Homo sapiens: one gene and its partners. The protein of the gene in region 4 interacts with the protein of the main gene of each other region in a pairwise test. Each region holds a gene or a part of one and is shown on either strand. Other genes may lie near its edges.

Evidence for each region.
Region 1: the proteins of CEND1 (region 4) and MFF interact in binary tests that used the Homo sapiens proteins (3 or more experiments, as listed by UniProt).
Region 2: the proteins of CEND1 (region 4) and MAGED4 interact in binary tests that used the Homo sapiens proteins (3 or more experiments, as listed by UniProt).
Region 3: the proteins of CEND1 (region 4) and MAGED4B interact in binary tests that used the Homo sapiens proteins (3 or more experiments, as listed by UniProt).

Annotation. Positions count from the first base shown.
Region 1 is NC_000002.12:227,341,839-227,349,490, reverse strand, and holds part of MFF (mitochondrial fission factor), read right to left. Parts: intron 6,747-7,652; coding exon of another isoform or gene 6,672-6,746; intron 2,266-6,671; coding exon 2,107-2,265; intron 1-2,106. UniProt on the Homo sapiens protein: Plays a role in mitochondrial and peroxisomal fission. Promotes the recruitment and association of the fission mediator dynamin-related protein 1 (DNM1L) to the mitochondrial surface.
Region 2 is NC_000023.11:52,187,428-52,192,960, reverse strand, and holds the end of MAGED4 (melanoma-associated antigen D4), read right to left. Parts: intron 5,320-5,533; coding exon 5,116-5,319; intron 5,013-5,115; coding exon 4,949-5,012; intron 4,756-4,948; coding exon 4,676-4,755; intron 4,288-4,675; coding exon 4,196-4,287; intron 3,575-4,195; coding exon 3,495-3,574; intron 3,410-3,494; coding exon 3,367-3,409; intron 2,976-3,366; coding exon 2,913-2,975; intron 2,617-2,912; coding exon of another isoform or gene 2,569-2,616; intron 2,340-2,568; exon of another isoform or gene 2,213-2,339; intron 1,968-2,212; coding exon 1,853-1,967; intron 1,531-1,852; coding exon 1,100-1,530; coding exon of another isoform or gene 1,096-1,099; exon of another isoform or gene 1,088-1,095; intron 905-1,087; coding exon 895-904; 3' UTR 693-894; downstream 1-692. UniProt on the Homo sapiens protein: May enhance ubiquitin ligase activity of RING-type zinc finger-containing E3 ubiquitin-protein ligases. Proposed to act through recruitment and/or stabilization of the Ubl-conjugating enzyme (E2) at the E3:substrate complex.
Region 3 is NC_000023.11:52,065,798-52,073,846, forward strand, and holds the start of MAGED4B (melanoma-associated antigen D4), read right to left. Parts: upstream 3,387-8,049; 5' UTR 3,333-3,386; intron 2,428-3,332; exon of another isoform or gene 2,407-2,427; 5' UTR 2,376-2,406; coding exon 2,166-2,375; intron 1,902-2,165; coding exon 1,068-1,901; intron 657-1,067; coding exon 453-656; intron 350-452; coding exon 286-349; intron 93-285; coding exon 13-92; intron 1-12. UniProt on the Homo sapiens protein: May enhance ubiquitin ligase activity of RING-type zinc finger-containing E3 ubiquitin-protein ligases. Proposed to act through recruitment and/or stabilization of the Ubl-conjugating enzyme (E2) at the E3:substrate complex.
Region 4 is NC_000011.10:786,606-795,099, forward strand, and holds CEND1 (cell cycle exit and neuronal differentiation protein 1), read right to left. Parts: upstream 3,486-8,494; 5' UTR 3,425-3,485; intron 2,054-3,424; 5' UTR 1,972-2,053; coding exon 1,522-1,971; 3' UTR 510-1,521; downstream 1-509. Other genes in the region: SLC25A22 (mitochondrial glutamate carrier 1), read right to left, coding at 5,310-5,463, 5,537-5,612, 5,699-5,853, 5,948-6,122, 6,265-6,383, 6,924-7,014, 7,853-7,983, 8,171-8,296 and 1 more.

The DNA of each region.
Region 1 (7,652 bases), on a different chromosome or scaffold from region 4:
TTTAAAAACTTACTGAAATGAATGAGAAAAGAGAATTCCTTCCCAGAAAAGGGATTTTAGAGTTATCAATTCATCACAATGTAAAAAAGTGAAATAAAATTTCACTGAAAGTCCAAAAATATTTTTCATTATTAAAAAAATACAAAGTTTATACTAATACGATTTTTGATTTTATACATTTGACTCTGAGGCACAATTTTTTTTCCATTATGGAGGAAAAAATCCATATTTTTATAAGTTCCACATTATTGCAATGAACTGTGTATATGCTGGTGAGGGGGAATTGGGACAAATAATTTTTTTTCTTTTTTTACTTTTTGGGACATATAATTTTAATGTACTGTGACTCTGCCATCTAGCTATTATTACTTTTTATACAAGATTTGGAAATATCTCTCTCATTCAGATATTTTAAATGTAATAGCATTTGATATGATATACTCGCACCTAATAATCTGGTCTCCACTAAGGACTTATTGTAATTAAAAAGTTAAACAAGTTAGCTGATGGACAATAAATCTGTTTTAAGGAGGGAAGAGAAAACAGGCCCTTGTAAATATTAGCTCTTAAGTGCCAGCTACTTTATATGCAATATCGTTTGAAAGATCTCCTACCATACTAAATAAAGAATTGGAGGCCATTATCCCTATATTATAATTAAAGGTGGGGGAGGGGAGAAGATCCTCACAAGAATTCACAAAGCTAGATATTATTACCCTTCCTCTCTATTTCTCAACAGATGAGAAAAGTGAGGCCAAAAGAAGCTAAGCAATTTGTTCAAGGCCATCATGCAGCTATGTAGTGGGGTGGATCCGGGTTAATTCTAACTGACTCCCTGAATCCATGCTTTTTGTTCTGAACCTTGCTGCTTCTTACAGCTTCCCAATAGTCCAAGAATGGCTTTGAAGCTTCAAAAAGCATAAAAGGGAGTCTAAACCCTTGGGGAAAAACAAACAAAACAGATCTATACATATACATGTATATATAATTCCCCTCCCCACACCCTCATGCCATGAGCTTTCTTTTTAAGCTCTTCTTAGTGCAGCTTTCAGTCCTTGGGCCCAAATGCATAGCACTAGGTCAACTCTGGGAAGGCTCAGAAAGGCCCTGGATTCAACAATGATAAGTAGCATGGACAGGTGCTTACGAAGTATGGTGACATACCCAGGGCCTGTGTGAGGACTACAAGCACTCAACAAGAAAAAGTTTGTCCAGTGCAAGTCAGAAGTCATATTCGTTCCTAAGGTAAGAAACAGGATTTATTAGAAGGGATAGCTTAATTTATTGTGAAATTCTTCAAAATGCAAAAAGTAACAATTAAATAATCATGAAAATTCAAACCCTGACTACCAGAAGCCACTAGATAAATGTTCAGAGTTGAAATGAAATTGACTCTATCTTTCCCACACTATGCCAAAAAAGCTCCCTGAATTTCCTTTAAAACATTATGTAGTAATAAAGCAAGGACAAAAAGTACTTGAGATAACTGCAAAAAAATTATTTGTATGAATAAGTCTAAGTATACTACTGATGATTTTACCTGGAGATGTTCAAAAGTGAGATAAATTATCAACACTGAAAAATATCAGTATTATCAAAAAGATGATAGCACCTGGAATTTTCAAAACAAGCCTAGAAATCCGTAGCTGAGAGGAAAGGAAAAAAGTGTCCTGGCAGCTGCGCTGACATCACCTCCTCAGATTTGCTTTATTAATCCAATCATATCAGCAGCATAAATGATTAAATCAAAAGACTAACGAGGACTAGTAAACTTCAGTCTAACACTCAATCCAATGGGACGGGGCCCCTTGGCATATCCCTAAGTGGAATCAAGTACTTAGAGTAGGCTAGAAAAGCCTTTGAAAAAAATCACTACACTTTCTATGTATACTCTCCCTGACAGAAGGAAAGCTAATGTAATCTTGTGAAATGTGAATTTTGGACAATAATTTCAAATTAAAAGAAAGTAAAGCAAGCTGTTTCAAATCATTGCATCTTAGAAAGAGGCTAGAAGGTAAAAACAGAAAAGAAAGACACCACAGTCCACTAAACAAGAGGCCAAAAAATATGCAATAAAGCTGTCAAGAGTCACGGATGGCCAATCACCTGCGATTTTCATCCAGCACATCCAAGATCTGCTGGTATGCCCTACGAGTAGAAGACTGGATAAGCGACAAAATGCCACGAGCAGAGGAAAGATTAGCTCCATCTTCAGGTAACATATGGGGAGGACAGACCCGAGCCTGTTGTGGCGATGGTGTCACACTGTTTACACAAGCACAGCAAATGAAGAGAAAAACACTCAAGTCAGATTTTTATAAAACTTCAGCTGAGCAGTCTTTATCTTAATTTTCTTAGTGTTCTTGCCCCTTTCCCACCCTTCACTCTCCCCACAAGAAAACAGTCAAAGAATAAATATTTTGAATTGTTTCCAAAAACTAGCTACAAGGCAGCACTTATAACTTTGTAACCCTAAACATCAAAATAAATAAACTGAATATGAAAGAACTGTAGAGAGGGAAGAGAACTACAGCAATGAATGTGTTCAACCCCTCCCATGGAGAAGCAGCATTCTTTACTTCGTGTTTATATTCCAATTCAATAAACCAACTTCTAAGAAACAACACTGCTGTCGACTTATGGATGATTAGAAGAGTAGGACAGGGAATTCTCACATACAGATGTCAAAGTTTAAACACATGAATCAAAAGTGTGATTCCATAAAAACACCATTTCAAACACTTCGTAAAGCCAATGAAGTTGAAGTTTATGACGAATAAATGACACTGATTTAAGGATGAATTAGTCTTAGAAAATGGTAACAAAGCATTTTGATTGTTTAATTATAGTAAGCATATGTTCTCTAGTTAAATGACTAAAGCATAAAAATATTCCCAAATCTGTGAATACAGCAAAAGAAGGCAAGGACACTTCTTAAATTATCAATGGCTGATAACCATTTCTGGGCTTCTTAGTGACAATAATCTTAATCGTTCTTTCATGTGTGGGCTGAGATTCACAATTTCATTTGACTCCCCTGCCAGTGCTTTCTGAAAGCTGAATGAACCAATTCTTATGGTTCTAACCTAAACTCTTAAGATCTGTGTCAGTATTTTCAGGGAGCTGTTTAACATTACAGTATGATTATCTATTGTGAGGTATTTAACTGACATACAGACTACGACAGTGGAATGAGGGCTCAACATTCTCAACGTCAAGGCAAAACTAACATCAGGCTAAATGTCATCCAATGTGTATTACATCTGAAAGAATAAAAACAAAGCAGATGGTAAACAATTGAAAAAAGAAAATCTCTTATTTTGACTGTGTAATCTTTTCTAACAGCATGTATTTGTTTGGAAACTACAAAATAAGTGGGATAATTTTTGACAGGATAGTTATAGTCATCTGATATTATTCCCAGAGTCCCAGAAAATTAAAAAACAAAATCTCCTCCACAGCTTTATGAATAACTTTGAATGGCTTGGTGATCCAAAGACAGAAGTACCATAATATGAAAACCATGTTTTTCAAAGATTACTTAAAAGATCTAAGCCAAATCTTAACGTATAAAGCAACTATCTATCAAGCCTGATTCACTATAGGATTTAGGTCAAATTTGGTGTCAAGATAAACTCAAATTTTCAGATGCAGTCTCATGACCAGTGACCTTAAATGTCCGTCCAGAGACTGGCAATCTCTGGGAATACATATAAGCCAACATTATCTACTGATCCATGGTAATTGGCAAAACCCATACCAGGCATTCCAGAAGGGTAAAAACAAATAAACAAACAAACAAACAAATAAAAAAAACATCCTATTTGTGAAACAAAACTATATGTTAGTCTTACACTCAGAATTCTCTTTAGGCAGCACTGGGAAAACCTGAAGCTCTTACTGCTTGTGAGAATTAAAAAATGGTCAGTTCTACATCAACATAAACAAACAATCCATCTTACACTCTTCTTGATAGAGCAGCCAGCGTTAACTGCCTAAATTCACTCAAGCAAGTTTTAAAGGACAAATCCGTACTTTGCCTTTGCATTTGGGGGTTTAAATTGAACACTTTGTGTATCATTCTGTACTGATAAATAAACCAGCTATATACTAACATATTAAAGGCTACAATAATCAATATTTAGAATTATAATCTTGGGGCAACAGTATGAATGAACTAAACTCAAATCCATGAAAAAAACTTAATGGATGTTGGCCCATTAAAAATTAAAATAAAAGAAGGGTTACTTCCTCTAAGAGAAATCCTTTTGCCAGAAACAAACAATAATGAATTGTTTATTTAAACTGTAAAAGTACAAGTATTTTCTGTCCATATATAGGAAATGAGGAGGTCATCTTATAAAATAGTCAAACATAAACTTACTTCAGACTAACTGCAAAGAGTTCCTAAGATGGAATGCAGAAGGTTGGATTCTAAAACAATCTATAAGATCTCTCTCAATTCTAAGATTTTACGATCACATGAAATTGGAATACAATGAGAAAAAACCTTACATGATCCTCAGTTATAATTTAACATGAAAAATACTTATGTAGAAAGATAAAAGATGAAATTAAGTTTTTATCAATACTAGTAAAGATATTTATTTCCTCAAAAACCAGCATCAAAAACATAACTTGAGGTTCTAGTTGTTTCTCAAAAGAAATTAACATTTCAAAGATTAGTAAAAAAATTAGCTTTTCATTCATGTGTATGGCAATCCTCCATAAACAAAAAACGAAATCGGGAGTATTTTTTTTTTTTAATTGATGACTACTTTTGCCAGTGTTGTATAGATTAAATGTCCTTGTTTGGTAACATTTAATTCCATCCACAGATGAAATAAATCACCATTAAGACTGCCAAAACTACATTAGTAATTAGAGGCAATAAATAATTTAGCAATTGTCTTTCCTTTTTAAAACTTTAAGCAGTCTTGTTGGTATTTTTTACAAATAAATGTAAAAACAAAAAAGAATAAGCTCCATTTTAGCAATCAGTTTGACAGGAGCTAAAATGTACTCCACAGCTATCAACTGTGGAGGGAAACAGCGCTTTCATCTCCGTCCACTCATGGACCCAACCAAGGTTTAATGACTTCCTGTTTCTGTAGTTTTGACAAGTGAACTATTGTGGAAAATAAAAAAGTAAACATACTGCAAAGGCACTGAGAAGATTAAGTAAATGGCATTATATATATATTAGTAATTTAATAAAAATGCAATTTGATAAACTGATTCCAGTGATATTATAAAATAGCAAAGTCTCAACATTACCTTTTTAAAAGAAAAGATTAGAAAATTTTGAAGAAAGCACTGATGTTTACCATGCTTCATTAGTAATAGCTCTACCTCATGCTTACATGAAATCTTATCACATAAGAGTTACATAAACAACACCAGGGCTGGGCACAGTGGCTCATGCCTATAATCCCAGCACTTTGGGAGGCCAAGGTGGGCAGAGCACTTGAGGTCAGGAGTTCAAGACCAGCCTGGCCAATATGATGAAACCCTGTCTCTACTAAAAATACAAAAGTTAGCCGGGCATGGTGGCATGTGCCTGCAGTCTCAACTACTTGGGAGACTGGGGCAGGAGAATCGCTTGAACCCGGGAGGTGGAGGTTGCAGTGAACTGAGATCACGCCATTGCACTCCAGCCTGGAAGTCACAGTGAGACTCCGTCTCAAAAGAAAAAAACAAAACAACCAAAAAAACACCAGCCAATTGTCAGAATTAAAATTTAAATAAAAATTTACTTGGCATAACTATATCATTATTAAAAGTAAGTTCAAAATCAAGTACCTCTTTGAGTTTTCATAGGAATAATGTTTCCCAACCTGTGAATTTAACCTCTTCGGTGAGGTATCACTCTTCCAAAAAATAGGGTAAAACAATAAAGAGAAAAAATTTTCACTAAAACACAAATATATTAATTTCTCTTGGAATTGTAAATACAGAGGAAATTTTAATATATTGCCACTATCTATGGCAACTGAATAGTTCCTGGAAGCATAATAATAGAACCAGAATAAGAGGAAAACTGTTGGCTTTCGGTGCAGTTTCTTCTGTTGCTTAAGAAGTGTATTAGCTATTGAATACCTGTATTATATACCAAAACGTTGTGCTCCATGAGTGAGTCATTCTCATACCTTATTTTGTCACATGGAAAGAGTGGGTTTAATAATAGCAAAAAAGTGCTTCCAAGCATCGTTTTCATCTATGGGATTATAAAATAAATGACAAACCACACTTATGCTCCATTCTCCTTCAGAAACAAGATAGAAGAAGAAAAGACAGTGCGCTGAAATTAAAAAAAAAAAAATTGGGATCACTGCACCAGGTGACGTTGAATCTGTTGAGAACTATTATACCAACCAAAGCAAAATAAACAAAAAAGGATGCTTGGTCCTTATGTGCATATTATATTTCAGGTTCCTTTCACCAACACATGCAAAATCATATACAACTTCCTTAGATGGTCTAGTTTTTTTTTTTCCTTAATAAAGCATATAATGACAGTTTGAGAAATCCTGAAACAGAGGTACTAAAAAGCCAAACAGGAAGATAATTAGGATAGCATACGTCAATTACCTGGTGAATAGATTAGTATTAACATAATCCTTCAAAATCAAAACAACTACTTGTCAAAAGCAGAGCAGATAAAATCTTACGTGTACTCCGGTGCAGAAATCGGTGCCTGGAACCTTGAAATTTTATTTCTTGGGGCAGAATCTGATCTGTGCCACCTTAAATAATAATTATGCTTCTTTTACATATTCAGCTTTTATAACACAAAGAAAAAGCTAGATCTGATTTTACTGTTTAGAATTCACTTTTGCGCTAATAGCTGACCACAATCTTATTGCCTCTTCGAAGTAATTAAGAAAACAAAGGCTAGTGCTCCTGCTCTCATACCCGTTCGCACTTTTATTCTTAAAGCCATGGAATAAAATAAAGTGGAGACAGGCAAAGTTTCATGCACTATGACGCACAACAATTTCATGTTACAAAGAAAACACTAAAGTAGGTAAAGATAGTAAGAGTTTAATAATTATTTTAATAGAGGTATTATATCAATTGTTTTTTCCTCACTACGTTAACAACACTGAATAATATGTTCATTATACAAAATTCTAAAGTTAGTAAGATGTAGATTCTTAAAGATAAATTGTAAATTATAAAATTAACAACAGTAGGAAAAGAAAGGGCAAAGTTACATTATTAACAAAATACATACATAACATGGTAATATACTTTACAACCATAATGAAAAATATGGTTAAGCAATGTTAAGTGTTTCACTGTGAAAATGTATAAAGATTCATTACTTTTACTATCAAAAATGAGATTTTCAGTTTTACTAAAAATTTAGAAAATGTCATTAAAGCAACTTAAAGAAAAAAAAAGAAAATCAAGTATTAGTTAACACTGTAAATCTTTTCTGTTATGAGGAACTTATGTTATTGAGTAAATACAAAAACATCTATATCATCTACTCTAAATTATACTTCACTGGACTGGTTTTCGTACATAATAAAGGGGTTTCCTTTCTCTTCAGCTGAATGCAGCTATAAATAATATATACTTCGGGAGAAAAAATAAGAGTGGTGCTATATTACAATAATCTTGTTTTTATTAATATAAAATGTCAA
Region 2 (5,533 bases), on a different chromosome or scaffold from region 4:
CACCCAGCCCTTGAACACACCAGGACCTAGGTAGGCCTGGTGTTGTCCTCACTGGGAGAGCCCTGCTGCTGGGGGAGAAGGGCTGCGAAGCTCCAAACAGGCCGCCGTTCCGTCACAGGCAAGGGGCTGTGTACGCGTGCACCGTGCGTTGTTTTTATTACATCCTGCTCCCTCAGCAATCACGGCCCCTCCTTCTACCCACTGGAGGGCTGCGAACATCACTGCGGGGCCCACCTCATTGTCCGTCAGACTCTGTACCGAGGACGGGGTCCTGAACTGTGTGGATGATGAGCCAAGGGTTCCGGAACATCATCTCCAAGGAGGGGGTGTGGGAGGTGGGTCCTGGTGAGAGCCTTGGACCCTGTCCCTCGGCGGGAGGGGCAGTGGCACCAAGCTGCAATTTTCCACCCCGCCCCTGCTGTGGCCCCGACTCTTGCCATGTCCCTGGGGCTGCTGAGCAAGGTTTGTAGAAAATCACATAACGATGAGCACTGGGGCCTCTCCAAACTCCTGCTCACGCACTCAGGCGTAACCAACCTCCGCACCTCCCAGCATCCCACCTGTCCCTGTGGGCCTTTTTGGCAGAGGTGGGGCCCACCTACCCCAGAGAGCCTGAAGAAGTTTCCTTGCTACAAGCCCAAGCGTGGCCAGGTATAGCAATGGGTGTGCAGGTAAAGGAAGAAACATCCAAATTAATTTTGCAACTTTAATGTAACACTGATACCCAAAACATGAAAACACAAGGAAAAGCACAAAATGAAAGCAGGAAGAGCAAAGAGAGCTTCATCTTGCATGCCACCTCCGACTGACAGGAAGAAGCCGCCTAGGGTGCTGTGTCGAGAAGGAATCTGAGAGGAGGCGCTCTGGCTTGGCCAGTAAGATCGCTGCAGTTCGTCAACGGTGCCTATAAAAGCACAAGAAACCAAAGTGACAACATCCGTGGACACACGCGAACCAGGGAGGGGTGTACGTAACAAAATAAGTGTCCGTCCATGCTGTTGCCGTTGCCCCCAGCGCCCCCACCCTGGCCCTCCCTCTGACATCTCACCCCCCTCCGCAGCCCTCCTGCAGAGTCTCATTTCTCTACCGAAACTCTTACTGGATCCAGGAGAAGAAGCTGGCGCCAGCTCTGGCAGCATTTCTGGTCCGGATGGTGGAGCTGGTGCTGGGGCCATCTAGGACGCTGGTGCTGGCCCCTCCATTGGTGCCACTGCTGACGCCAGCTCTCCACGTGGCCCTCCTGTTGGCACGGTTGCTATTCAGAATGTACTGATGGTATCTGGCCCAGAAAGCAAAGGGGATCCTGGCCCAGGCATCGCCAAAATCTCCGTCCTCATCCCAGGTCAGGAGCTCGACTTGTATGTCATCCCAGCTCCACCGTCCAATCAGCGCTTCATCCCCGATATTCATCTGGGCCCTCATCTGGGCCCTGGCATGTTCCTCGGCCATATCCACATCCATTGTCTTGAAAGCATCATCCACAGCCTCCAAGAAATGAGCCTTCCATTCCCGGGGGTCTCGGTTCTGATTCTGAGGAGGAAAAGGGCAGGCATAGACACAGAGCTACCCCACACTGGCTGAGCACCCGCGGCCCGCCTCACCCCCTCCCGTGTGCTTTGTGCAATGATGGCAAAAATCAGGACCACAGGGATTGGGGGCTCCTACTCTCCTGTGCCAGACCTGGGATTTTGCCCCATCTGTGACCTTGTGTAGGGTGCTCAGGTGCCTCTGTGAGTGTTTGGTACCCTCACTGGAATACGGGGTAATGGGAAGGAGGCCTCGACCAAGAAACAAGCAAGGTGTGGAGAGCACCACCCCCGGTGCCGGGCACCCAACAGAGGCGCTCCCTTACCTGGGCGATGAATCTCAGGACCCTCATCTTGCTGGTCTCATGGCGGGCTCGCAGGCCCCAGAGGAATTCATACTCAGGTGGGTTGCTGTTGGGGATCTTCTTGTATTCCAGGTACCTTGGCATGAGAGGAAAGTAAACTTTGCTGCTAGCCAAGCAGACCTGTTGCTGAACGGATGGGTTCCAGGGGGCCCCTCCTCAACCCGATGCCGCAGCTCAGCTCCTGGAAGAGGACTGTCCTGCCCCTCCAGCCCTTCACTCATTCCCAAACCCACTCCCAGGACTTCTGCCTGCAAAAGTGAGGCCTTCAAAGCCTTTTGCCATTGGTCCTCCCCGGAAGCCATGCGGAGGTGCAGGGGGTCCACATGTAGGGCATTTGTCTGTAGGGAGGCCACAAGTTTGTGCCCCTCATCACGATGACCCCAGCTTCCTGTTGGGTGTGTTGTAAACAGAGGAGCCATTCTTCAGGCCCCCTGCTCTGAGCACACCCCACCTCGAGGGTCTTGGCCACACCCCGGCGGAGCCCTGGAGAGGCCCACCAGAGGAAACGACTGGAGAGGAAGAAACAGTCAGCCAGGAGAAGCGTGCTCCAGGCATCCTCCTCAAGTCCTGACCCTTTGTTGGTGTGCATGCGCGCCTGTGCGTTGGCAAGTCCTCCAGGGACGGGGAGAGGGTGGCCCCTGGCCTGAAAATCAGGAGAGTTGGGCTGAGGCCCTTACCAGCTGGGAGCCATGCTCAGAGGCGTCTCCTCTCTGAGCTCCGGGTTCCTTAGGTGTAAACCAGGGGGAACTCTTGTGTCAGTCTACAGGGCAGGTGCTCAAGGTGATGGCGGCCGTTTTCACACCCCACACCGTGTTCTCAGGTGACGTGAGCTCCCTTTTCCCAAGACCGCCCTGGCCTTCGGCTCCCCACACACTCGCATACCCCCCACTGCCACTCACTCCCAGGTCAGAGGCACCCATCCCTCCAGTTGAAGATTTGGGATAGGGAACTGCTTTCTCAGCCAGACCAGCACACAAAGGATGCTCGAGTGAGAGCCGCAGTTAGCTCAGGTGATACTTACTTCTGCTTCACAAAGTCATCTGTGATGAGCTTCCTCAGATCGCCGAGGAATGGGTGCCTCACCCTGAGGGCAAGGAAAGGAATCCATGAGCAGAGACGGTGGCAGGGGCCCTCCCTAGCATGACTATGACTTCCCAGCCCCCGGGGAGTCGCTGTGGAGGCCTGGGCATGCAGCAGAGGCCAGAGGACTGTTGGTCAGGGACGCCCCAGGTAGGGATTTGATGGAATCCCTGACTCTGACTGTCTCTCTTAGATGTCATCTGGGGCCACAGAGCAGAGAGAGGGCTGAGCAGCGTCCAGCACCGCTTCCCCATCCGCCCTGGTGAGATCCTTTGCTCTCTACCGAGCCCAGGGCACCCCACGCCCTTGCGCCAGACCACCAGGCTATTGCAATCCCAGGACCTCTTTGGCCAGAGGATAGCACCGAGGGGAGGAGCTGGAGAGGCCAATCATACCCAGGGCGCAGTCCCATCTTGCGTAGTGCCTCCCAGAGGACAGCTGCGAGGGGAGAGGAGGTACGAGAGTTTGGCACCCAGAAGATGAGACTATGGGCAGCCCCCCAGTTGCAGGTCCAGCCACTCACCCTCGCTGGCACGGTTGCCATTCATGAAGATGACGCCCAGAATCACCAAGAGGAGACTCAGCCTGGGAGTGTCCTTGGTTCTAAAGGTGTGGAAAGAGAAATCCTGTTTAGCAGCTATTTGCCTGAGAGACACCACCAGGCTCTCCCAACTAGCCTCTCTCAGGTTTCCCAGCTTGAGGGGAACTCTTCCCAGGACAGGCACAGTTCACTAGCTGCTGACAGACCATTCGCACCTCCGCCTGAGACTTAATCGCCTCCTCTATAAAACATGGGTACTAACACTTCCCTGACAGGGTTCTGCAGAGGACAGGGCGAGGCAGGGAGCCGAAGCTCTGCAAATGGCAAACGTGTGCCCAGAGATGGCTCCAGACCTTTCCTGCCCCTTCCACATCAGCACCTACACTGAAGAGGCAGCTCTCCCCTAGGCCAGCTCTGCCAGGCCCAGGCCAGGCAGGCAGGAGGAAGAGGCACTTTCCTCCGAAGCTTTGGGGATAAAGCCCGGCAGCAGCTTGGGGAGAACTGATGGCAGCAAGGCCTCACCCCAGGCTATCATTCCTTTCATCCAGCAGTCACCAGGCAGCCCTCGCTGTGTGTGGGAGCGGTGCGCCGCACTCAAGCCCCGTCTTCCTGCTTCACTGAAGGGGTGTGGGCAGGGAAGGGACACCACCGAGGAAGGCCACGACCCGCTTTCCCTTTCTTACTTTCCAAGGAGGCGAGCTGAGGAGTCCCGTGTGCAGACAAGAATATACAGGTGTTCTTCCTTGTCGATCTCCTTCAGGTGGATCCCAAACTTCTACGTGGGGGAGAAAACAGAGTGTGAGATCCAAACCCCATGCTGGGCATCCTGCCGGCAGACAGTGATTCCGGGTTAGAACTGCTCCTCAGCAAGGAATCCAAACTCGTGAGCGAGGGCAGAAGAAGACAGCACACGGAAGACCTTCGCTGTGGGAGCTGACGCTGGCAGAGGCGATGAGACCCACCTGGCCAGACGGCGAGACACTCAGAGAGCATGAGAGAGAGAAGCCGAGGGCAGGAAGCACGAGTCAAACTGCCAGTGCAGTGGAAGCTCAGAGTCGGAGAGGTGAGAGATGGCTCCAGAGACTGGGCCTTGAGGGGCTGCAGGGTCACCGCACCCCCATGCCCGCTCTTCCCCCACAGAGCTGCTCCCATCCTGCACCCACCTTTTCCAGGGTGTACGTTGCTCGTTCAATGATCTCAGGGAAATGTTCATCATATTCTCTGATGACATCCTTCAGCATGTCTGCAGGAGGGGGAAGAGTTGGAGAAAGCACCTGGGCTGAGCAGGGGTCATAGAGCTGTAGCCCCTTGGTCAGCTCTGCCGAGGGTGACGCAGCCAGGACCCCGTCCTGTGGCTATGGAGGGACCAGCCGTGGCACGCAAGCAAAGGGATGCCCACAGACTAGGGGATGGTGAAGGGGGCACAGGCTGCCTACCTGCGCGCTTGATGGGGATCTTCTTGTAGTCCTTAATCATCAGGTATTTCACCAACTTATTTGCCTGGAGAAGGAGGAACATGCGGGGAGGTCAAGGCATGGGTGACAGCAGAGACGTGGCCCACAAGGGAGGAGAGGAAGGAGATGGGGGAGGGTGGGCTTCTTACCCTCTCCTGCAGAAGGGTCACGTTGCGGGGGGGCAGGCACAGTACGTGCCTTGAGGGTATCTGGGACCTCGGGGCCATCGGGGGCCGAGGGGCCAACTGAGCCCGCACCGTCAATGAGGGCTGTGATGCTCTCCAGGTGGGTGGGACCGCGGGAGTCTCTCTCTCCTCCTCGCTGCTCTCATACTCATCATCCAGGTGCTTGGACTGTATCATTTGAGAGAGGAGAGACCCAGGGCTACCAGGCTCCCCGTGCCAAAGCACCCGGCACGCACCTCACCCGTAGCAGGCTCTTGGAAATGAGAGCAGTACCAGCAGCGGCTGGCATGTGCTGCGTGCTTACTAAGTGCCAGGCACTGAGCCAGCCTCTTCTCCCACCAGTCCTGAGGGTAGGGACTACGTGGAGTGAAAACATGCTCAG
Region 3 (8,049 bases), on a different chromosome or scaffold from region 4:
TCCTGCACCCACCTTTTCCAGGGTGTACGTTGCTCGTTCAATGATCTCAGGGAAATGTTCATCATATTCTCTGATGACATCCTTCAGCATGTCTGCAGGAGGGGGAAGAGTTGGAGAAAGCACCTGGGCTGAGCAGGGGTCATAGAGCTGTAGCCCCTTGGTCAGCTCTGCCGAGGGTGACGCAGCCAGGACCCCGTCCTGTGGCTATGGAGGGACCAGCCGTGGCACGCAAGCAAAGGGATGCCCACAGACTAGGGGATGGTGAAGGGGGCACAGGCTGCCTACCTGCGCGCTTGATGGGGATCTTCTTGTAGTCCTTAATCATCAGGTATTTCACCAACTTATTTGCCTGGAGAAGGAGGAACATGCGGGGAGGTCAAGGCATGGGTGACAGCAGAGACGTGGCCCACAAGGGAGGAGAGGAAGGAGATGGGGGAGGGTGGGCTTCTTACCCTCTCCTGCAGAAGGGTCACGTTGCGGGGGGGCAGGCACAGTACGTGCCTTGAGGGTATCTGGGACCTCGGGGCCATCGGGGGCCGAGGGGCCAACTGAGCCCGCACCGTCAATGAGGGCTGTGATGCTCTCCAGGTGGGTGGGACCGCGGGAGTCTCTCTCTCCTCCTCGCTGCTCTCATACTCATCATCCAGGTGCTTGGACTGTATCATTTGAGAGAGGAGAGACCCAGGGCTACCAGGCTCCCCGTGCCAAAGCACCCGGCACGCACCTCACCCGTAGCAGGCTCTTGGAAATGAGAGCAGTACCAGCAGCGGCTGGCATGTGCTGCGTGCTTACTAAGTGCCAGGCACTGAGCCAGCCTCTTCTCCCACCAGTCCTGAGGGTAGGGACTACGTGGAGTGAAAACATGCTCAGCAAACTTGTGTTGGAGAAACATGGACTAGCTGAGAGGAGAGGAGGGGAGGAGAGGGGAGGTGAGGAGAGAAGGAGGGGAAAGAGGAGAAGAGAGGAAGAAGGGGGAGAGGAGAGGGAGGAGAGGAGCAGGAAAGGGAGGAGAAGGAAAGGACAGGAGCAAGGGGGTGTGGAGGTGGCAGGGGGCAGGGGGATCTCACCTTCTTGGTCCTCTTGCCTCCCATCCTGGCCCAGGGCTCAGCACTGTGCTGAGCAGTGGCAGCAGCTGCACCCTCCGGCTCAGGGATGCTCGTGGCCATCTTGGCCTTGGCAGCAGCTGCTGCCACAACATTCTGAGGCTCCACCCACCGAGTCTTGGCCAGCGCCTTCCCCGACTTGGTGGTCTTGGGCCGGGTGGCTGCCACCTCCCTGCCAGGTCCCGTCTGGGGCACACCAGAGGCAGCACTGGGGCCCTCTGTGGCAGCCTCTTGGGCTGGGGCAGGTCTCTTGGGGCGCGGGAAGGCCATGCCACTGACACCTGCCGGCTGAGTGAAATCGAAGACATCATTCTGGCCCAGGAAGGCTGTGCTGGGCCGGTTGGCGTCCACCTCCCTGGCACACGGAGCCTGAGAGAAAGCACAGGCGCTACTAGGGCCCTCAGTAGCAGCCTCCTGGGCCGGGGAGCCTGTCTGGGACTGTGCGGAGGTTGCCGGAGCCTCGGGGGCAGCCATCTTACTGGTGACTAACATCTGGGAGGTCTGCGGAGAAGCAAGGGGTGGCTCAGGGGTGGGCCCCTGAGCCTCGGCGGCGTAGGTCGTGGGCTGGGTATCCTCTCCTGAGACCTGCGGCGTGGCCACCCGGTGGCTAGCGACCACCTGACTGAAGGCGGTACGGGCAGCGGCGGCAGCGGCCCGAGCCGCACGGTTGGAGGCGGCGGCGCGGGCTACGTTGGCAGCACGGGCGGCCGTCTCATTGGCAAGTGTTTCCGGATCCAGCTGCAATGCCTCCACCAGGGTCTGGGCCAGCACAGGGTTTTCCAGTTCCCAGGGCTCATTCTGCAAGGCCAGAGAGAGGGGTTGGGGAAGGCAGGCCACTCGACGACATACTTGTGTTAGCTTCCCTGTGCTGGCCAGCCTCTTCCCAGCAGTCAGCCCTGAACACCCCAAGACCTTCCCAAATCTTCTTCTTCCGAGCAGGGGAGGGAAGGCTTGGGAAGCTGGGCAGTCCTTTCCCACACAACCCTCCTGGCTCCCCCCTCCTCCCTCCCCCATTCACAGGGGAAAGGCCCAGGCCAGCAGGTGTCCAGGAAGGGGCCTCACCGATAAGATGCGAAGGCCTGGACCCAAGCTTCCGAAGGCTCTGAGGATATGGATGTCAAAGCTGGTGAGGGTGCCATAGCCACCAAACGCACCGAATTCTTCATAGTCGTTGCCTTCAACCATCTCTTCCTCCCCGACTTCGTCGCTACCCTCATCCATGTCTTCAACACTGTAGCTTTCCGATTGCACGCTGAAGCTTCCCTCAGCCATGCTGCGGGTCCCAGGGAGATGAGAGCTCAGCCTGAGAGGGAGGGTGAAGCAGCTGCAGGGGGAGGGGGCGGGATCCAATGGGAGGCGGGATCTCCCGGGAGGTGAGGGGCGACAATCATCAGGTTACTAGGCAATATTAGGCAGTAGGGGGCGGGGGGGGGGAGGAGGAGCGGGGGGGAGACGGTTTGGCTTTCTGATGGGGTAGACCTGGTCAGGGACAGAGCCCAAGGAAAGGGACAGAGGAGGTCGCAGGAGGCGCCGCACTGAAAGCGGAGTTTAGGATGGGCAGGCTCGCCATCCCAGCGGCTAGATTTGACGAGGGGGTGTTCTGGAGGGCTGGGGTCCGAAGAGTCCCAAAGGGAATGCATTGGGGAAGAGAGAAACAAAGGGTTTGGATTTACGGGCCAGAGAAGGGGACCGGGATGAAGGGGGAGCAGATGGGAGAGCTCAGACAACAGGGACAGTGGCAAGCCGCAAGCTCTGCGAAACAGAACCCCAGGGACCTTTGGCTAGGTCCGGGCGGGGGGCCTAGGTGGGGCTCAGACTCGAGCACTAGAGGCGGATGGAGTGGGGGCCTCAGACCTAGGTGAGGCTCCAATCGGAGCGCTGCAGATCTCAAACGCGAGGACTGGGCACTCCAGGAAGGGGGCAAGCGGTCAGCTCGGTTCGAGTAATCTAGGAGTGGTTGGGGTGGGGGTGGGGCCTCAGGTCCAAGGGAGCTCAGCTCGGAGCACACGGGTCTGCTAAAGGGGTGAGGATCCTGGGCTCCGGTTTCAGTAGGGCTCAGATCGGGGCGCCTGGGTCTGATGGTGATGGGGGCTCCTATCTAGACCTTGGGTCTAATGGGGTTCCGGTTCTGAGTGCTTGGGCTTTGTTCAGATCCGGAGGCGGAGGGAGGGCGCAGCGTGTCGGGTTCCACTCGCCCTCTCCCGGTCCTGTCTGGGGCTGGATCCTTACCTTCTCGGGAACTCCAATGGCGTCCGTCCTCAGCACCAGGAACCCCGCAGCCGCGCCCTCGCCTACTGCTGCCAGCACAGCAGCCCGGACCACCCCGCCCCTTTTCTCCGTGCACCCCCCGCGGCTGGGTAGCCTGCGCATGCGCGGACCCCTCCAGCCCGCCCGCTTTCCCAACAAAAGCCCTTTCCTCCAGGTCTCCAGTGCGCATGCGATTCCGCGGGTGGGTGGGCGGTGGGGTCGAAGGTAGGGTGCGGGGGGCTCTTCCCGCCAGATCCACTTCACCTCTCCTCCTCCTCCTCCTCCTACCGCGGGCGCGCACACTCATACCCTGCAGTGCAGCTCGACCCACCCAATCATCTCTTCTCAGTCCCCCCACTTTTGCACAATGCTTCTCTGTCCTGCCCTGCCCTTTCACCCAAACTCCTCCAGCCTGGTCTGGGATACACTATGCCCCGTTTCCCCGGCAAGACCCCTTAGGTCACAATTAGTGAGGTCTCACAATTAATAAGCTGGGTCTCTAACTGCAACAAGTGGAAATCCTCAACCTGCGGGGCTACGAAATGGACATGGCCAGAGGATGGCACTTCGCTTTGTGTGCTTCTCCACTAGCCAACTCTCTGGCCCCCAGACATACTGGGAACATCTGCTTCCTCAGCTACCCTTTATGCAGCTTGTATGTCACAGAGGGATCTGTGCTGGGGCTTTTCTTCCTCTCACAGCAGCGCTGGGAAGTGGATGTCAGCATCCCCATTTGGCGTGTCAGGAAGCTGAGGCACAGACACATTGCATGAACTAGACCACAGAGCCAGGAAACAGAAAATGCAAAATTTGAACCTGGGTCTTCCGGACTCCAAAGTCCACCTCCTGCTCCTGCTGGCCTGGGGACAGAGGCACCGCCTCCTCCGTCTGAGTGACAGGCCTCCCCCACCCCAACATCTGTCCCAAAGAAGCAAGGTTTGTGCTGTAGAAGGCCTAAGTTCATGCTCCGCATTCAGGACACAGGGAGACAGAGCCTCCCCCCGCCTCGCCCCCAGCCTCTGCGGCTCTATGTGGGTCCATCCAGGTATGAGAATTGCTCCACCGGGTCCACTCTCTACTCAGATTGTCAGGCCTCTTCCTTATCAGCGATACAATCACGCTGCCGCTGAGACCCTCCTGGTGTCCGCCAGGACAATTAGACACCTGTGTGTCTGAGCTAATTACTCCACAATCTACAAGCCCAGTTCAAACTTCACTTTTGAGGTCCAAGTGCATAGTACATTCACCTGCCTACGTGACATCTCCACTTGGATGTCTTTTGAGGCAGAAAATGCTGTGGTCTCATCTGCAGTCGAACCTGGACTGTTTGTAAAATTCGTAGTAGATTTTTATATTTGTTTTTATGTCAGCCTCACCAGGACCCCTGTGTATGAATGGAAGGTATTGCTAGGACAGCAGCTTTTACTCTCCGCTGACCAGTATCCATTCTGCCTGGCTCTGTGGTTTTCTCCAGCTGTTATATATCAATCTCTCCTGTCAGCTGCTTGTGCCTCTTTAGCCCTTCCCCTGTAACATATCCTCTGCGGGAGAGGAACACACCCTACAAACGAAAGCCTTCAGAAAGTGCTACGTGCTAATCACTCCAAAAAATCTACAACCCCAGTCTGAACTTCACTTTTGAGGTCCAAGTACATACATTCACCCACCTACGTGGCATCTCCACTTGGAAGTCTCAAGGGCTCTTCATGGTTTGCCTGTCCAAAACTGGTCACTTGGTATACTCACTCCTCCCATACACTCACACATCCCCATCGCTCCTGTTCCCCCCCCCCCCAACCCATCTTCACAGTCTCAGTAAATGGCGCCATTATCCACACAACCACTCACTCCAGAAACTGGGAGTCATCGATCACCACTCCCCGTTTCTGATACGCTGCATCCAGAAGGGCAAGCTCTGAAGGGTCTCCAGAGCTGCCTCTCTGTGCAGCTGTCTTCTCTCCATTACTCCCGGCAAATTCTGGTCCTATGGACCTCTTGAGCTCTCAACTCTGTCTCCTTCACTCAGACGGTCCACCGGGCTCTGTTGTGTTCAGCTCCCCTGTGCTGCAGCCTGCAAACTCTATCCGGGCAAGAAGTTGGTGGAATTGGGCGATCAGAGGGCTCACCTGGTCAGGTTCCCTTTCTCTCAGGGATCACTGTCCCGTATGCAGGTGGTGCCATGACGTTAAGCCTTATAATTTTTTTGGTTTATAGGTATTTAGGCGAGACGGTAAGTCCGGTTCCTGTTAATCCATCATGGCTGGAAATACAAGTATCCACCGGATTTCTTAATTTTCTTTTCACTGAGCCCTGTGCTTTCAGGAGGCCTCCACGTTGCCACGCATAATCTAAAGTATGTCCAAGGTGCTATGCACAGAGAATCCATGGTGTGCATTCCTGACATTTTACCTATCTGCTCGCCCAGAGATTTACCCTTTCTCCTAAGTAACTAGAAAATCAGAAGAAAACCATAAGAAACATTTAGATGTCCAAAGAGAAGAATGACAGCACATTTCTCATTAGCAATATGCAAGTCAGAAGTCATGTGGCACACCATCTTTAAAATCGTGAAATAAAAATAAATGTCAACTCTTAAGTCTATACTCAATGAATATCTTTTCAAATGAAGTTAAAATAGTAGGTGTTTAGACATACAGAAGTTGAAAGAATTGATCATCAATAGACTTGCACTGTAATATTTTTTAAAACTTTTATGTTTGGGGGTACATGTGAAGGTTTGTTACATAGATAAACACGTGTCACGGGGGTTCGTTGCACACATGACTACATCACCCAGGTATTGAACTCACTATCCAAGAGTTATCTCTTTTCTGCTCCTCTCCGTCATCCCACCCTCCCCCTTAAGGAGACCCCAGTGTCTGTTGTTTCCTTCTTTGTGTTCATAAGTTCTTATCATTTAGCTCCCAATTCTAAGTGAGAACATGTGGGATTTGCTTTTCTGTTCCTGCGTTAGTTTGCTGAGCTTATAGCCTCCAGCTCCATGCCTGTTCCCACAAAAGACACGGCCTTGTTCTTCTTTATGGCTGCATAATATTCCATGGTGTATATGCACCACATTTTCCGTATCCAGTCTGTCATTGATGGGCATTTATGTTGATTCCACGTTTTTGCTCTTGTGAACAGTGCTGCAGTGAATAGTCCAGGTGCATGTGTCTTTATGGTAGAATGCTTTATATTCCTCTGGCTCTATACCCAGTAATGGGATTGCTGGGTCAAATGGTAGTTCTGCTTTTAGCTCTTTGAGGAATTGCGATACTGCTTTCCACAATGGTTGAGCTAATGTACACTCCCGCCAACCGTGTATATGGGTTTCCTTTTCTTGGCAACCTCGCCAGCATCTGCTATTTTTTGTTTTTAGTAACAGCCATTCTGACTGTTATGGGATGGTATCTCATTGTGGTTTTGATTTGCATTTCTCTAATGATCAGTGATATTGAGCTGTTTTTCATATACTTCTTGGCTACATGTATGTCTTCTTTTGAGAAGTGTCTGTTCATGTCATTTGCCCCCTTATTAATGGGGTTGTTTGTTTTTCTCTTGTGCATTTGTTTAGGCTTTTTATAGATGCTGGATATCAGACCTCTGTTAGATGAATAGTGTTGCAAAAATTTTCTCCCACTTTGTAGGTTGTCTGTTTACTCTGTTGATAGTTTCTTTTGCTGTGCAGAAGCTCTAAGTTTAATTAGATCCCATGTGTCAATTTTTACTCTTGCTGTGATTGCTTTTGGTGCCTCTGTCGTGAGATCTTTGCCTGCTCCTATGTCCAGGATGGTATTGCCTAGGTTGTCTTCCAGGGTTTTTATGGTGTTGGGTTTTACATTAAAGCCTTTAATCCATCTCATGTGGATTTTTGTAGATAGTGTAAGGAAGGGGTCCAGCTTCAATCCTCTGCATACGGCTAGCCAGTTATCACAGCACCATTGATAGAATATGGAGTCTTTTTCCCACCGCTTGTTTTTGTCAGCTTTGTCAAAAAAAAAAAAAAAGAAAAAAGCTGGTTGTAGATGTGCGACATTATTTATGGCCTCTCTATTCTGTTCCATTGGTCTATGTGCCTGTTTTTGTGCCAGTACCAGTACCATGCTGTTTTGGTCATTGTAGCCTTGCAGTATAGTTCTTTTAGCTTACGATTGCCTTGGCTATCCGGGCTCCTTTTCTGGTTCCATGTACATTTTTAAATAATTGTTTCTAGCTCTGTGAAGAATGTCCTTGGTAGTTCGATGGGAATAGCATTGAATCTATAAATTGCTTTAGGCAGTGTAGCCACTTTAATGATATTGGTTCTTCCTATCCATGAGCATGGGATGTTTTTCCATATGTTCATGTCTGCTCTGATTTCTTTGAGCAGTGTTTTGTAATTCTCATTGTGGAGATCTTTCACCTTCCTGGTTAGCTGTATTCCTAGGTGTTTTATTTTTGTGTGTGTGGCAATTGGGAATGGGATTGCCTTTCTGATTTGGCTCTCAGTTTGGTTGGTGGTGGTGTATAGGAATGCTAGTGATCTTTGTACATTGATTGTGTATCCTACAACTTCGCTCAAGTCGTTTATCAGCTGAAGGAGCTTTTTGGCCAAGACTATGGGGTTTTCTAGATATAGAATCATGTCATCTGCAAACAGAGGTGGTTTGGCTTCCTTTCTTCCTATTTGGATACACTTTATTTATTTCTCTTGCCTGGT
Region 4 (8,494 bases):
TTCCCAGGCACCGCAGGCCTTGCTGCTTGTTGGCCCGCATGCTGCAGCCCCACCCGTGGCCAGGCCCACCAGCAGGCCCGCCGGTTGGACACCTGGTCAGAGTGGGCTGGGGTCCATGGATGAGAGGTGTTGAGGGGAGCCTCTTCTGCACTCAGGATGTGGGGCTCGCTGCAGTGGGGGCTGCGGAAGGGCCCCTGCCTGGCTGGAGAGCTCAGCCTGAGAAGCAGGGCTTGCCCTCCCCGCACCCCATGTCCTCACTGCTTCCTGGTCCTGTAGCCCCTGGGTGTCCATCTTGGGTCAGGACCCACAGGAAGGCCAGGGAGGAGGATGGAGCAGGGCCTGGGTGGCGATCCGGGCCGAGGCCCCTGGAATAAGGGCATAGGAGTGACAGGGGGTCCCGTCAGAGGGTCCTGGATGCAGCATCCCTCCCTGGAAAGCCTGGGGTGTGGGCGTGACACATGCGACCCTGCGTCTCCCAGCCACATGCAGATGAGGATGCAAGAGCAGCCTTCAGACGACAGAGTTTATTTCAGACTCAGCCTCCACTCAGGCCCGGGGTTCCTGTGGCCACTGGCCAGTGAGGGCAGGCCACGTTCTCACAGTGCCCACCACCACCTTCTGGGAGTTCGCCTGCTGCTGCGCGCCAAGGGCCACGCTGGGACTGGATGTGCTAAGGAGGGGCTGCACGAGGGGCTTCCCCAGGTGCAGTGGGCTGAGGACAGTGTGTGACGGTCGCCGCCAAAAGCAGTTCTACTCTACCTGTTATTGCATTATACGCTGGTTAGACTCAGGTGGTGCTGGGTGCAAGCTGGAGGGGCAGTCTAGCGGGGCAGGGCGGGCACAGCTGTGAGGGGCCCTCGACATCCCTGCCTCCCCGCCGGCGTCGGGGCTCCCCTGGAGCACAAGCTGGGGAAGGCGACCCTTGGGCAGCACCCCCTCCACACGCAGGCTTCAGGGCTCCGTCTTCCCACCCAGCTAGGCTTGGGTGGTGTGGGGAGGTGGCATTGAGGCTCTGCTGAGGTGAGTGCCCACCCCAGGTCCGTCCCACTGCATTCGCCCAGGCAGACCCCCGGGGGGTACGCAAAGAGCAGAAATGGGGCGAGTGGAGCCACCGCGCCCTTTAATGTCCCCACGAGGGCCGGGCCCAGGCCCAACCCATCCCGGCACCCCCACCTGCACTCAGACCAGCCCTGGGGGCCCAGGATCACCCAGCCGCCAGGGGTGGGGGGGGCCACACACAGGGTCCATTCCTTTCTTGCCGTTCCCCAGCTGTGCCCTCGCCCCACATCCTGTGCTGTGGACCCCGGAGCCTGGGCTCTTTCTGCCCTGGAGGTTGGGGAAGTCCTGGGTCAGCAGGGGTGGGCTCGGGCGTCCTCTTCACCGTGCGCGTGTGTTGGGGGCGTATGTAGGTGTGTAATGAATGTGCGTGTGTACGAATAGGTAAGGGTGAACTCTGCATGCACTGGCTTCCTCGGGTCTGTACAGGAAGTGGCTCCGTGCCCCCCGCCTGGCCCCCAGGTATTATTTTTTCCGGACCAGGAAGGCCACACCGAGAATCAGGGCTATGGCTGCCACGGCCACACCCCCAGCCACCAGCAGGGGGTTGAAGTTCTCACAGGACCAGGGACCTCGGCCCCCAGGCCCCCCACTGGCAGCCTCATCTTCCTCCGCCCCGTCCCCAGGACCCTTGGGCTCCGGGGTTGCATCGGGACTGCTGGGGACCGTGGGGGCTGGCTTCAGGTTGCTGTGGTTGTTGAGAAGGGCAGGGTCGGCCTTGGCCGAGGTCTTCTTGGCAGGTGCCGTGGTGGGGGCTGCTGGCGGCTGCTGCTTCTCGGCCGGGGCCTCCTTCTTCGAGGGCTTGGTCAAGGGGGCTTTCCCATCGGCTGCCGGGGGTACCTTGGCCTCGGTGGTGACCTGGGGCACCTTGGTGTCGGGCTTGGGGCTGCTGGCTGACTTCCCTCTGGACTCCATGGTGGGCGGGGCGTATGGGACAGGCAGGTGGCTGCACCAGAGGGGCTCAGGACAGTTTGTCGCCCCTGGGCATTCTATGGGCCTGGAGGGAGACACAAGGGAGGCTGCGCGCGGGTCCAGTCCCCCCTGTGCTGCCCCGACCACCTGGTCCCCAGGCAGCCCCTGCCCAGTTCTCTGGACTCTCTGGAGCCCCAGCTCAGGGGCCTCCCGTGGGCCTCTGACACTTCTCTTTCACGGCCTGGACTCCATCTGTCCATGACCACTCCTCAAGGGGCCCCTCCAGCCGCAGAGGCAAGGGCCACGCACAGGTGGGAGGAGGTAGGGGACCCCACTGTGCTCCATAAAATGGCCCATGCAAATGCCACATCCTCCCACCAGCCGGGGGCAGGAGGCTCTTGGTGGGGAAGTAAGGATCAGGCCCAGAGAACTCGAAGGAAGAGCATTCTCCCCTCCAAGGAGGTGATCGGAGCCCCAGTGGGAGAGCTGACTGCATCCCCTCCTCAGGAGAGCATTCCTGCTTTGCAGAGATGGACACTAAAGCACGGAGGCTGTGACCTGGCCAGGGTCCCAGGGGGAGGAGGGCGGGGAGGGGCAGGAGCTGGGATCTCAGGCAGCCATCAGGGTGGGTGGGCCCACAAGAACCCAGACTTGAGAAAACTGGGGTGTCTCTCCAGGAAGTCAGCGTGGGGCTGTGCTTCCAAGGGCCGTCTGCCCCTCCCCAGCCTCTGGGGCCCCCTCCTCAGCATGGGCCGTGCCTGCCTCCAGCCCTGGAGCAGGGAGTCCTCGCCCAGCCCAAGGCTGTGCTGTCTCTGTGGGCAGAGGGTTCCTGGCGTTAAACAGGGTGGGCACATGCTGCACTTGGCCCGCGGGTCAGGGCGGAGGACAGGGTTCTGGGCTGTGGGAAAGGCGGTGCCCAGATTCTCAATGACCGAGGCAGAGGTGGGAAGGGCCCTGGGGGCCCAGCCGCCCTGAACCTGAGTGGGTCTTGCCCCAAAGCCCCAGAGGCCGCCTGTCTGCCTCTCCCAGGGAAGGATGAGAAATGCCCTCCAGACCTGCAGAGAAAGGGAGGCACGTTCCCCACCCCCCGCCAGGTGCATTGACCACACTGAAGGTCACCCGAAGGTCACAGCATGATGAGGGCGTCTCCAGAAGAGGCCCAGCTGCTGCCACCTCCCAGGGAAGCCCAGCCGTCCCTTCACCCCTGCAGTTCTCGGGGGGCTCAGCTGCTGGGCATCAAGTTTGCAAAGAGCAGGTGGTCTGCCCCCCCAACCTCGCTATTTGTGGCACTTACATCCCGGCCGCCGCCTCCCTCTCCCGGGATCAACTGAGCCCTGGAGAACTGGGGGGCCCGCGCGCAAACCCAGTGACCTTCAAGGCCCGGAGCCGCCTCCTCGCCCCGCAGGACGCCGCGCCCGCCCCGCCCGCCCCGCCCGCCGGGAGCCCCCCGCCTTACGCGTCCTCCGGCCTCCCCGGGGCTGCGCGCTCCTCCGCGGGATGACGGCGGCTGCGAACGCGGAGGAGAGCTCGGGAGTTTCCCACAATGCACTGCTCCCGGCGCAGGAGGGCGGGGAGGGGGAGGGGCGACCGGGCCCCGCCCCGCCGGGAACCGTGGGATCCGCAAACCCAGCTCCGCCTTAGATCCAGGGGTAGAAACTTAGGGTCCGAGAGAGCAACTGCGGGGTCCAAGTCCCATCTGGGACTGCCAGAGGCAGGAGGCGGGTCCCGCTCAGCATCCCCTCTAGGCCAGGGTGCCCCTTGGTCGGTGGGTGACGGGTCGGTGGGTGAGGGGTCGGTGGGTGGGTGCGCAGGCCTAGCCCTGCAGTCTGAAGGGAGCCAGTTATGGGAAGAGGGGACTGCCCTCCCCCGCCCCCAAACAGACCCCCAGACAGACAGCAGCATCTACTTAGAATATTTATTTATTCTCTGACATGACAAGACACAAAAAGTTACAACTTCTTAAAACTCTTCAAAAGAAAAAAATATAATTCTGTAAGCAGCAGCAGCAGCTTCCAAGGTTCTGATGTGACGGGAGGGGCAGCTCCCAGGAGCAACCGTGAACTGGGGGGGTCCAGGCCTGAGCCCCAGGTAGTGTCGCTGGGAAGGGGCCTCTGTGGAGGGCCCCGGTTTTGGGGACACAGCACCAGCACATCAGGGTCTGTCACCAACACGATCACATGGCCAGGGCGGGGCAGGGAGAGCTTCGGCTCACAGCAGGGATCGCCCGGTGGCAGGGGGGATGGGGCTTCTGAAGTGTGGTCAGGGGCCTTATGCCCGGAGGCGGGAAGGATGGGGCTTCTGCAGTGTACCCAGGGGCCTTATGCAGAGGCTGAAAAAGGAGGGTGGGCCCTGAGAGGACTTGGGGGTGTGGCAGCTCCTGGCCCTCCCTCCAGAGCAGGGCAGGCACCCTCAGGCTCCACACTGGTCCCAATGCCCGCCCTGCTCCCTGGCCAATCCCAGGCCAGGGTGGAGGACTCAGGAGAGACCAAGCTGGGTAAGTTAGTTCCTGGACGGGGTCAACAGAGCCTGGGGCACACACAGCACACAGAGCGCCTGGCCACGGCGGGAAGGGGGGCAGTCCCCAGCAGCCCCATCCCCAAGGGCCAGGCCAGATCCCCACAACACACACACGCATGCACACACACATACACACACACATGCACACAGACCTCACAATCTGGGCCCCAGCCTGGGGTGGGAGCTGAGGAGCCCACCAGAAAGTCCCACAGTGGGTGGCGGGCTTGCCCCAAGAGTCAGACCTCAGGGCAACCCCTCACTTGGGATTCCTGGCTCAACAGAGAGGGCAGGAGACCCCAGTCCTCTTGCAAGGCTGGCCAGGGAGGCAGAGTCAAGTCCTGCCAAGGCGACAAGAGCGGCTGGGGAAGGACGGAAGGGCTGGAGAGCCGCTTGGGTCCAGCAGATTCAATAAATAGGTTTGTGTGGGGTGCCTGTGTGGGCCAGGATGGCTGTGGAGACTGGAGCTGGTGGACTGGGGGTATGGTCCAGCCTGCCCGGCCCAGGCCCGGGGGCCCCCAGCCCAGAGACCAGCTCTGTCCCTGGGGGTGTTCAGGCCAGGGCAGGATTGGGGCAGGGGCTAGCTTGAGGAATGTAAAGATTTCTGCATTTTCTACATAAATGAGACATTGATCCCAACGGTGCAGGCAGCACCCCGGGGGGCTTGCGTGTGCACCACCTATGTGGACCCTGCACCCTGCCCCCTGCTGCCCCTGCCGACGGGAGGGCTGGGGAGGGGTCTTCCCTTGCTCCGTCCTGGGCTAGCTGCCTGGCTCCAGCCCCACACCGGCCCTGCCCAGCTGGCTGGGGTGGAGCGGGTGCTGGGCTCAGGCCTGGGGGTCCTGCAGCAGCCCCAGCAGGGACTCCGCGATGCCCAGGAAGTAGACCACCTGTGCGATGCCGAAAAGGGGCGCGATGACCAGCGCGCGGCAGTAGGCGCCCTTCAGGAAGGCCGAGGGGCCCTCGTGCCGCAGGATCTTCCTGTGGAGGAAGGACGAAAGGGTCAGCCCGGTACGCAGGCCCCCAGGCCCCACCCGCCGTGGGACCTCCCCACCTGGCACAGTCCAGGATCCCAGAGTAGGTGTCCTCGTTGACGCCTCGCTGAAGTGACTGGAGCCGCGTCTTCACCACTGCAAGGGGCGCTCGGGTCAGTGTGAGCCTGGCCAAGGGCTCAGTCCCGCCCCATCCCCAGCCGGGCGCCATCCCATGCACTGACCATCACAGGGGTTGACGGCCACAGCGGCGGCACTCCCAGCCACACAGCCGGCCAGGAAGGACACGTAGAAAGGCGACTTCTCCTCGGACGCCGGGCGGCCCAGCTGGTTCAGGTTGGCAAAGAGCGGGAAGTACACCACAGAGAAGGGGACATCCCTGTGGGGAGGGAGGTGGCCGTGGGGACAGGAGGTGGTGGGGTGGGCAGGCCGGCCTCCCCCTTCCCTCCCCCCACCTGCCCTGTGCCTCCTACCTGAGCAGCGTGGCCCCGAGTCCCTTGTAGAGACCGGCAATGCCACGGCTCCGCAGCAGGTCGCGGGTCAGCTGGGTGGCCGTGGGCCGAGGGGCAGCTGGAGCCTCCACTGAGGGCTGGGCACCCCCCTGGGCCGAGAGCTGGCCCTGGGCAGCCAGGATCTTCCTCTGGGCGGCTGGGGACAAAGAGGCTGCTGTCTCCTCTTCTGTGCGAACTGGGCAGGGGACACGCTCTGGCCCTCCCTGCGTCCCCACCCTCCCCTCGCCCTCACCTCTTCCCGCACCTCTGCCCTCTCCTCCCCCTCCCCCCGCCCTCACCAATGCGCCCTGCATCCTGCAGCTGGATCTTCAGCATCTCCATGGGCGTGGTCACGATCACCTGGCAGGTGCCAGCCCCACAGCCCGCCAGCATCTCTTTAAGCAGGGTCAGCTTCTGCCTGTGGTAGGGGCGGGGCCGCAGTAAGTGGGAAGAGACAGGTCTACCTGCCACCCTCGGGGCTGCCCACCATGCCTGGGCGCAGAGGATGGTGGGAGCCGTGGAGGCAGATGCAGGCCTGTGGGGGTACAGCCCCCAGCCTCCGCCACTGCAGCAGCAGGCAGGGAGGAGACCGATGGACAGACGGCCCCACAGGCAGGGGCCTGGGGAGGGCAGTGGGGCTGTCTGCGACAAAGGAAAATGGGAAATTGGGGGTCAAGTGCCCCAAAAAGGGGCTGCCCTTGCAGTCCCCCTCCAGTGATGGGGGAGCTGGTCAGTGCCCTCAGGCCAAGGGCTACCAAGCCAGAGCCCCACTGATTTGACATCTGCTTTGCTCCCCTGGTCAGGGGAAAGGAGGGAGGGTGCCCCACGAGGTCAAAGAAGCCCCAAGCAAGGGGCTGAAGACAGGCAGAGCCCCCAGGTGGGACCCAGCTGGCAGGGTGGACCCATCCTTTATCTGAAGCCAAAGACCCCTCGAGTGTCTGCCAGGCAGAACCCTCACCCGTCCTTAGAGAGCTGATGTCGGAAGAAGTCGTTGGCTGCCAGCTTGATGGCCTTCTCGGGGGTGACGAGGGTCAAGTTCACAGCAGCTCCTGTGGGGCAGGGGGTCAGCTGGGGGGACATGCTCGGTGGCCTGAGTGGGGAGGCGCTTGGCCAGGACTTGCCTCCTGGCTGGCAAAACCCTGTCCCAGTCACTCCTGGCCACCATCTGTTCTCTCACCCACATTTGGGCCTGGTGTGTGCCAGGTGGGGCGGGGCCAGGCAGGGATGGGGCAGCACCTCAGGCTCAGGCTCTCCCATGCCCACTGCAGCTCCATCTGTCTCTGATTCTGGGCAGCATCTTGCTGCTCAGGGCATGAGGACTGCCCCGGAGCCCCTGAGGCCTCCCTAGGATACCTCTCCCTCCCTGGAGGACAGATGGTGCTTGTGCTGGCAGGGGGCTGGGGCCAGAGGTCACAGGAGTGTGTGGTCTGGACTGGGCCAGAGCTCGGGGGAGGCTGTGGAGAGCCCCCATCTCAGTGCCGAAGGCTCAGGGCTGGAGAGCTTCTGCCAAATCTAGGCTCTGGATTGTGTCCTAAGCTGCTTTGCGGTAATGCCCCTTACTCCCTCCCATCCCCAGCCACAAACGGGGTCCAGCCTGGCCCAGAAGGCAGAGGCAGCTGTGGCCACCAGAGAAGAGACAGATGTACCATGGCATCCCACGCACCAGGCACTAAGTGGGGGTGGGGAGCTGCCACGGGAGAGGCTGAGAACTACCACTCACCAGAGATCCAGTCCCCCCTGCACAGGCACAGCCCCCACAAACACGTCCACGCTCACACACCAGGCCCAGGCTGGCCGCCCTGCCCTGCCTCCCCCACCGCTCCCTGCCACGACTCGCGGGCGCTACCCAGGCCTGCCCATATCGAGCCCAGCCGAGCCAAACCTCACCCCGGTACATGCCGAAGTAGCCCTCGGAGCGGACGGTCTTGATGAGGCAGTCGGACCTGTGGCCAAGGGGACAGGGTGAGCCAGGGCCAGCTGGGGCCAGCCGGAGGCCAGGGTCCCTGGACTGTCTAGGGCTGATAGAAGAGGCCAAGTCCTCAGCCCAGCCCCGACCCCAGTCCTGACCCACGTGGGATCTCCCCTAGGCCCGCCTGCCTCCCGTTTCCCTTCTGTCAAACAGGGTGGGGGGCACAGGAGCAGAGCCCCCACCTCTCCTGCTGCCACATGCTGGGCCCACTCCCCGCGACCGCCCGGCACACTCACATGCTCGTGTACACGCGCTGGCCGTTCTGCTGGTTCTGCAGCCTGGTCTTGGCCAGGTCGATGGGAAACACGCAGGTGACACCGATCAGCCCGGCGATGCCGCCATTGATGAGCTTGGCTGGCAGGCTGTGTGGACAGGGGTGTCAGGACCGGCTTCCTTGACCATGGGTCAGGGTGGGGGTGAGGCACGCAGCCAGGACTGGAGTCTGACCTGATCTGCTTATCAGCCATTTAACTCGATTGCACCCAGGTAGGAGCCGCAGAGGTGGACGCCAGGCCAGGCGGGGTGGAGGTGGAGGTGGAGGAGGCCTTGAGGGAGGGTGG